2 linked regions of the Homo sapiens genome follow. The protein of the gene in region 1 purifies or fractionates together with the protein of each later gene. This does not show direct contact. Each region holds a gene or a part of one and is shown on either strand. Other genes may lie near its edges. The genes, in order: CTSO and DCAF6.

The links.
Region 2: the proteins of CTSO (region 1) and DCAF6 purify together in Homo sapiens (affinity purification with mass spectrometry; one large-scale study listed by BioGRID and IntAct). This does not show direct contact.

Annotation. Positions count from the first base shown.
Region 1 is NC_000004.12:155,926,516-155,929,969, forward strand, and holds part of CTSO (cathepsin O preproprotein), read right to left. Parts: intron 3,191-3,454; coding exon 3,027-3,190; intron 1,914-3,026; coding exon 1,821-1,913; intron 1-1,820. UniProt on the Homo sapiens protein: Proteolytic enzyme possibly involved in normal cellular protein degradation and turnover.
Region 2 is NC_000001.11:168,047,860-168,051,689, reverse strand, and holds part of DCAF6 (DDB1- and CUL4-associated factor 6), read right to left. Parts: intron 799-3,830; coding exon 757-798; intron 1-756. UniProt on the Homo sapiens protein: Ligand-dependent coactivator of nuclear receptors. Enhance transcriptional activity of the nuclear receptors NR3C1 and AR. May function as a substrate receptor for CUL4-DDB1 E3 ubiquitin-protein ligase complex.

The sequences.
Region 1 (3,454 bases):
CAGATTGCAACATCATGGCAAAAGCAATAAATAGCCTATCTGAAGACTGGTTTTTATTATAACTAACCGTATCTTCGAAATCTCTTGCAGCTATGAAATACTATCTGCCTTATGCCATTGCTCATAAGAGTAATATGACATCATTGTAACTTTCAGGGAATACTCACTTTCAGGAAGAATTTGAATCCCTGTATGATTACCAACCAGGCATGCCCTTAAAGATTTACATTATGAAAGCAGGTAGAGAGCAGAAATTATCTCCACTCACCCTTAGTAGCTGAGGGATGGAGAAAGGTTGTGGTGAGGGACGTAGTTATAATTGAGGCAATTATGAACCAATATTTGAATTATGTTATTTTAACACTCCTGTAAGAGATTTGAAAGCAGTCACCCCTCAGCCCAAATCCAGGATCCACCACTGCTGCAGTCGGACATAATATATGTTCAGCAGCAAGGGTTAATGATTAGCATCAGTCATTTATCTGCAAGTTCCAAAGATGTACGAGTCCCCAGTGATGCTGAAAAGTGGAGGCCTGATGGGGTTGCTAGTATTCTGGCCAATATATTTCTGTGATGTTGACTTTTTTCAATGAATAACTTATAAAAACTGTCTCATCAGGGTGATAGAACAGATCACTCATGAACTCTCATGGATTCTGCCTTATGGAATGATTGGTTAATAGTCATTGAACATAAACTTTCAAATTTTTCTGTAACTATTTAATCAGTCTCATAATCTGAAAGATTCTGCATTTAAAAAAATTGTATATATGTTGGAACAAATTATAATAAGAAATGACATGATTGCTCTAATATGTAACTTAGTTTGGGTCTAGCTTGATTCAGAAAATATGTTGATTTCTAGACCAAAAGTTTTAGAATATAGGTTTGAATATAGTTTTATAACACGGTTAAAATTCTTAACTAGCTATTTTAGTTTGGTTGGTGGTTCATTTAAAAAGTTGTGTTTCAGGCTGGGCGTGGTGGCTCACGCCTGTAATCCCAGCACTTTGGGAGGCCAAGGAGGGCAGATCACGAGGTCAGGAGATTGAGACCATCCTGGCTAACACGGTGAAACCTCGTCTCTACTAAAAATACAAAAACAAAAAATCAGCCAGGTGTGGTGGCGGGAGTCTGTAGTCCCAGCTACTCAGGAGGCTGAGGCAGGAGAAGAGTGTGAACCCGGGAGGCGGAGCTTGCAGTGAGCCGAGATCATGCCACTGCACTCCAGCCTGGGAGACAGAGCGAGACTCTATCTCAAAAAAAAAAAAGTTGTCACTCAATAAAAAAGCATGTTTGGTATTTGCCTAAGCCTCTCAATTCTAGTGGGTGTTTTGCTAGAATTTTGTAGGTGGCAAGGGGCATATTAAATCACAAACAATACTAATGCTTAGTTTTCGTATATTTTAAAACAAAGAAAAACTCTTGATAATCATTGAGCAGATATTATAATACAGAAATTAAGAAAAATTTATAGTTATGAAATGTAAATTTGGAACAAGAAGACATTTCTGCAGGAGTCCAGTCTCCTAAGCTGTGTGTTTATCTCATTTTTAAAGCAATTAACCTTGGTAAATTATTACTTTATCTTATGTTTTGAGATATATATGTAATATATATTTTTTACTAAGGTCCCTCTTCCTTTTTCAAATACTAATATGTTTAACAGTTCCTCTTGCAAAACACTTTTTTTTTTATCATTTGGTTAAAGGACAAAAATTATTACTGCTAAAGTGGTTTGAGTAGATTGTAACTCTAAAATATTCAAATAATCTCCTTAATATTTATATTGAGGTTTTAAACACAAACTCATGACTTACCACAAACATTACTTCCCATTTTGACATGGGCATAACCATCTACTCCCCAAGAACTTCCCCAGGAATTCCGCACAATCCAATATGGAGTGCTTCCTACAGTGAAACATAAATAGTAACAAATCCTGAAAACTCAAATTTGTTATGAATGTTTAAGTTTCTTTATTTTAAGTTGGATTCTTGCTAAGGATAGTAGCTCTGAGAAGAAGATTAAAAATGTAATTTAATGGTAACTTAAACTACTTTATTTTAACTAAGTAAACCTGAGCAGTACTTACGGACACTCTCCAATCAGTAGAAATATATGTTTGAATTCACTTCCCTTTATACAGGGACTGCATAAAATGAAAACAAACACTAATTTCCAAGGAATCAGAAAAAGAAAAAAGAACTTTTAGATACGTATGATAAAATAATATGCACTTACCTTTTCCCAACAATTATTCTAAATGTTCCCGATACAGTTTTATATCAACAAAAATTATCATCATTTTAACAGGATATCCACTCAAAAATTGACAGGTGGAATCTGACAAGACATTTACATTGGGAACAGGCCCCCCAAATCCGGCCATAAACTGGTCCCAAAACTGGCCATAAGCAAAATCTCTGCAGCACTGTGACATGTTCGTGATGGCCATGACGCCCACGCTGGAAGGTTGTGGGTTTACCGGAATTAGGGCAAGGAACACCTGGCCGAACCCTGGGCAGAAAACTGCTTAAAGGCGTTCTTAAGCCACAAACAATAACATCAGCAATCTTGTGCCTTAAGGACATGCTCCTGCTGCAGACAACTAGTCAGACCTATCCCTTTATTTCGGCCCATCCCTTTATTTCCCATAAGGAATACTTTTAGTCAATCTATAATCTATAGAAACAATGCTTATCCCTGGCTTGCTGTCAATAAATATGTGGGTAAAGCTCTGTTCGGGGCTCTCAGCTCTGAAGGCTGTGAGACCCCTGATTTCCCACTCCACACTCTATATTTCTGTGTGTGTGTCTTTAATTCCTCTAGCGCCGCTGGGTTAGGGTCTCCACAACTGAGCTGGTCTCGGCACATTTACTCCTATAAGATTGTTGAGAAGTTGTGAAGGTCTTATGAGGACTTAATCATAGCAGAACCAAATTTCAATGTTCTACAGTATGGTGATCATTTTGCACTCAGTGTCCATGCTGGAAAGCAGTCAACTGAGTCTTATCAGCACTTACCTGTTTTATCAAACCCAGTTATGAGAACTGCATGATTTGCTTCTCCACTAGAGCAGTGATGCTGTATAATGCCTCCCAGATAATCTTGCCAGCTCACTGCATCTACTATGACTACCAAAGGGCCAAAGGTAAGAAGTGCTTTTGCCATTTCATCTTCTTGGTCACTACCAAAAGAGGAAATATTTGGTTAGAAAATTTAGTTTTTAAGGTAAAAATAACAATGATCTATATAATCTGTGTATGATTCTGAGTAGGTTTGGTTGCAGTTACAAAGGACCTAAACAATGGAAGCTAAGTCTGAGAGACTGGTAGTCTATGGCTGGGATAGGGTTTCAGGATATCAGGAACCCAAGCTCTTTCTCTATCATTGTCCTGCTATTCAAAGGTTTCCATTTTCAGGGTCCATTCATGGTCCAAGATGGTTGCTG
Region 2 (3,830 bases), on another chromosome or scaffold:
TATTTCATGACTTCTGTATTTTTCATTAGGAACTCTACAAACTTTACATTTCTGATTGTTGCTATATGTTTCATGTTCAACTGTTTTAGAAACTGATGGTAAATAACAGATATATGCCTCTAGAGTTAAGTACAAGGTTGATTTTGTCAGCAAAACAGGTTTTCAGTAGGTGACTGATGTCATTGAGGTTCACTTTAAAGATCTACTCAAAAATATGTCCCAAATAGAGAAGTGCTTGAGGCTTATATATCATCTTGATATGTGACACTATTTCTAAACTATTTATAAGGAAACAACTTTCTTGCAAAAATCAGAAACCTATACACAGATTTAGATTCAAGTACATTTTTAGTTATTGAGCTCAAGGAAAAGGAGCATATACGAATAACAAAAAGTTGGTAATTGTTATCCCAATCAAATTTAAAAAACATAAATTGCATTCTTCAACAAAATATCCAAAAAGAGTAACTGATACTTAAAGTACATCATTTCAGATTATAGTTACTTTGCCATATGACATATTTGAAGTGAACATCAGTCTGCACACAGGAAATTTCTTTTCATTCTATCCCCATGCAGTGCATGCAGCTAAATATAGTTTGTGGAAAGCGACCTGCTTTACAATGCTTAGCACTTAGAATTCAGTAAGTCCAAAGGGAGTATTAACTGTTAATAGGAAAGGTGGTTAGCTGTGGCAAAAGAAGACCTGGCAAATCCATCATAAAAAAAAAATTATGAAGGAACATACTGAATTACCTCATTATTCTATCACCTATTGTTGTTCCTCTGATATTAAATCTAGTGAAGGGAACACAATAACTGAAATCACTTACAAAGACTTCAAAGAACCAAATATTTAAAGCATTAAGGACACCCTTTTTATCATCAATCATCTCAATTTAAAAAAAAACTTTTGTTTCCCTTTGTGACTTCGGGCATTAAGCAAGGAATATGTCAGTCAACTAAATGTATATGAAGAAATTAAGGAAACAGAAACACTCATTGAAGCTAGAATAGAAGGAAGACATTGCACTTAATCCCTTTTATCTTTTAAATAAATCAGAACCCAATCCTGTCACAGTATGGGAAACTGCACTGGCTTATAATGAATACCATCCTCTGGAACACGTACATGCTCCTCAAAGCTGAGGAGCTCTTTGGAAAATAAATAATTAAGCCCTAAGCTAATTCACTTGGCCTAACCACAAGACTATATAACAAATGAGCAAAGAATAACAGGGCTTTTAACTCCCTAGGAGTCCAGTTCTTTCTCTTTGAGTACATCTTTTCTCTCTGCAATTTTCTTTAATAAAGAGTAAACTGCAATAATGAGAAATAAGGAAATCATGGTTACAATGATGACTGAATAAATGCTGCCAAATTTACAGTACAAGGAATTTTGGCTTTAAAAGTGAGGGCTATGCTCCATGGTCCAGAGTAGGTATATGGAACCAAATTTCTATGAAAATAACACTTTAAAAGTTATTAAAGGGCAATATAGGATAAATCACTCTTTAGGGAAAAAATTGTTAGATCATCCTAACTGAGGCTATAATTAAAAACTATTCAAGACTATGTGAGGACTTATTCAGGAAGCTTTCTTAGATGCTTGTTTTTTTTTTTCAGAGAGTAATTTAGGTTTTCTCTTGAGTTTAGAAACAGTAAGAGCTACCAATCAGGCCGTCAAATCACTTACAACAGATTTGGCATTGTAAAAAAAAAAAAAAATTATACAGCCTGGGTGCGGTGGCTCATGCCGGTAATCCCAGCACTTTGGGAGGCTGAGGCAGGCGGATCACGAGGTCAGGAGATCGAGATCATCCTGGCTAACACGGTGAAACCCCGTATCTACTAAAAATACAAAAAATTAGCTGGGCGTGGTGGCAGGCGCCTGTAGTCCCAGCTACTTGGGAGGCTGAGGCAGGAGAATGGCGTGAACCTGGGAGGCAGAGCTTGCAGTGAGCCAAGATTGCCCCACTGCACTCCAGCCTGGGTGAGGGAGCGAGACTCCGTCTCCAAAAAAAAAAAAAAAAAAAAAAAAAATTATATGCAGATTATCTAAACAGAGATCTCAACCACACTCTTTTCATTCCAAGGGCATATATTTACGTTTCTTAACCCAGTATATGGCCAGGCGCGGTGGCTCACGCCTATAGTCCCCCAGCACTTTGGGAGGCTGAGGCTTGAGGCCAGGAGTTCAAGACCAGCCTGGTCAACATAGTGAGACTGTCTCTTCTAAAAAAAAAAAAAAAAAAAAACAACAACAACAACAACAACAAATTAGCAGAGTGCAGCAACATGCACCTGTAATCCCAGCTACTTGGGAGACTGAGGGAGGAAGATCGCTTGAGCCCAGGAGTATGAGGTTGCAGTGAGCTATGATCATACCACTGCACTCCAGCCTGGGCAACAGGGCAAGACCCTGTCTCAAAAAAATAAAACAAAATGAAATAAATACAGTATATAAAATCACTAAAAGATACACATACTATTTTTTTGCTTTGTTTTGCTTTTTTCCTAAGTCAGACTTATTTTTGACATTAGGACTAATTTTATTTTTTTAAACACCATGATTAGAGAACAAACATTTCTTTCTGTCTTTTTTCAATTTATTTCCCATTTACTGTTCCATGTTCTTGCCTTACGCAAAGTTAAAGGGAACCCAAATATGTGGAGATTCATATTATTTCATTGTTTCAAAGTCTGGATTTTTGCCAGTAGAGGCATTTTACCACAGACTATAGTTTGATTTCTCTCTATAACACTGATTACTATAGAGCAGGTATTTGCAAGCTATGGCTCTTGGGCTAGATCTCCGCCAAATGCCGATTTTTGAAATGAACCTTAGGCTAAGAATAGTTTTTACATTTTTAAATGTTAATATTTTAAATGGTCATATAAGTACCTACCATAATGGTCTCCATTTTGTCTCCTGGCCAACAAAGCCAAAATATTTACTATATGGCTCTTTAGGAGTAAGTCTGCTGCTCTGCTATAGACTCCCAGTTACATTTACATAGACTTGCTGTAGTTAATGAGAAGAGCATTCCATTTAAAAATATCTATGTTAGTTGTTAAGGTCTTCATTTTCTAAGACATTTCCTTCTCATGCTTGATCTCAGCCCAAAAGTGAAAACCTGGGTCATTTATTTAACCAAATTATAAGAATGTAAATATTTTTTTAAAAATCATTACTCTGTATTGCAAGGAACTGTTCTGATATTTTCAGTAAATTTGTCAGAAATGACTTAGCTATAAAGCCTTTTAAAGTTTCCTTTTAAAAATTAAATTTGGAACAAAAACTGATGAGGTCCACTATATAGTTCTTCATATAAAGTACAGATCAAATTAAGTATACACTTGTATAATATTTAATTTTAGGACCACTTCTCTACCCCAGCTAAACTAATATTGACTGGGCTTTGCAAATGGCAGCATGGAGGGAACTTTAAGACATACATCCTTTTAGGTGGGCATTTCATCCATGTGTGCAATGTATCCTTGGACTCTAGGAACCAAATGGTATGATTGTTACAACAGAGCTTCACAACCCTTAGTCTCTTGGGAAACAGAAACTCTCCAAAATCATAGGACTAATTACAAGCTGGTAAGTGATTCTTTTCATGTTCTTAAGAAGCAAAATCTCTTAAACTTTCTCTCTTTAGAATAAAAGTCAGCTAAATTGAGAAGTAAGATAAACTGGCAGGAGTGTCAATGATGAAGAGCCCTTAGAAAGGTGCAGAAATATTAAAAGTATACTTTTTTACAGTTGTTCAAGATTAAATCAGGATGGTGCCAAAAAAGTTAAGAATTATAATAACCGATTTAGA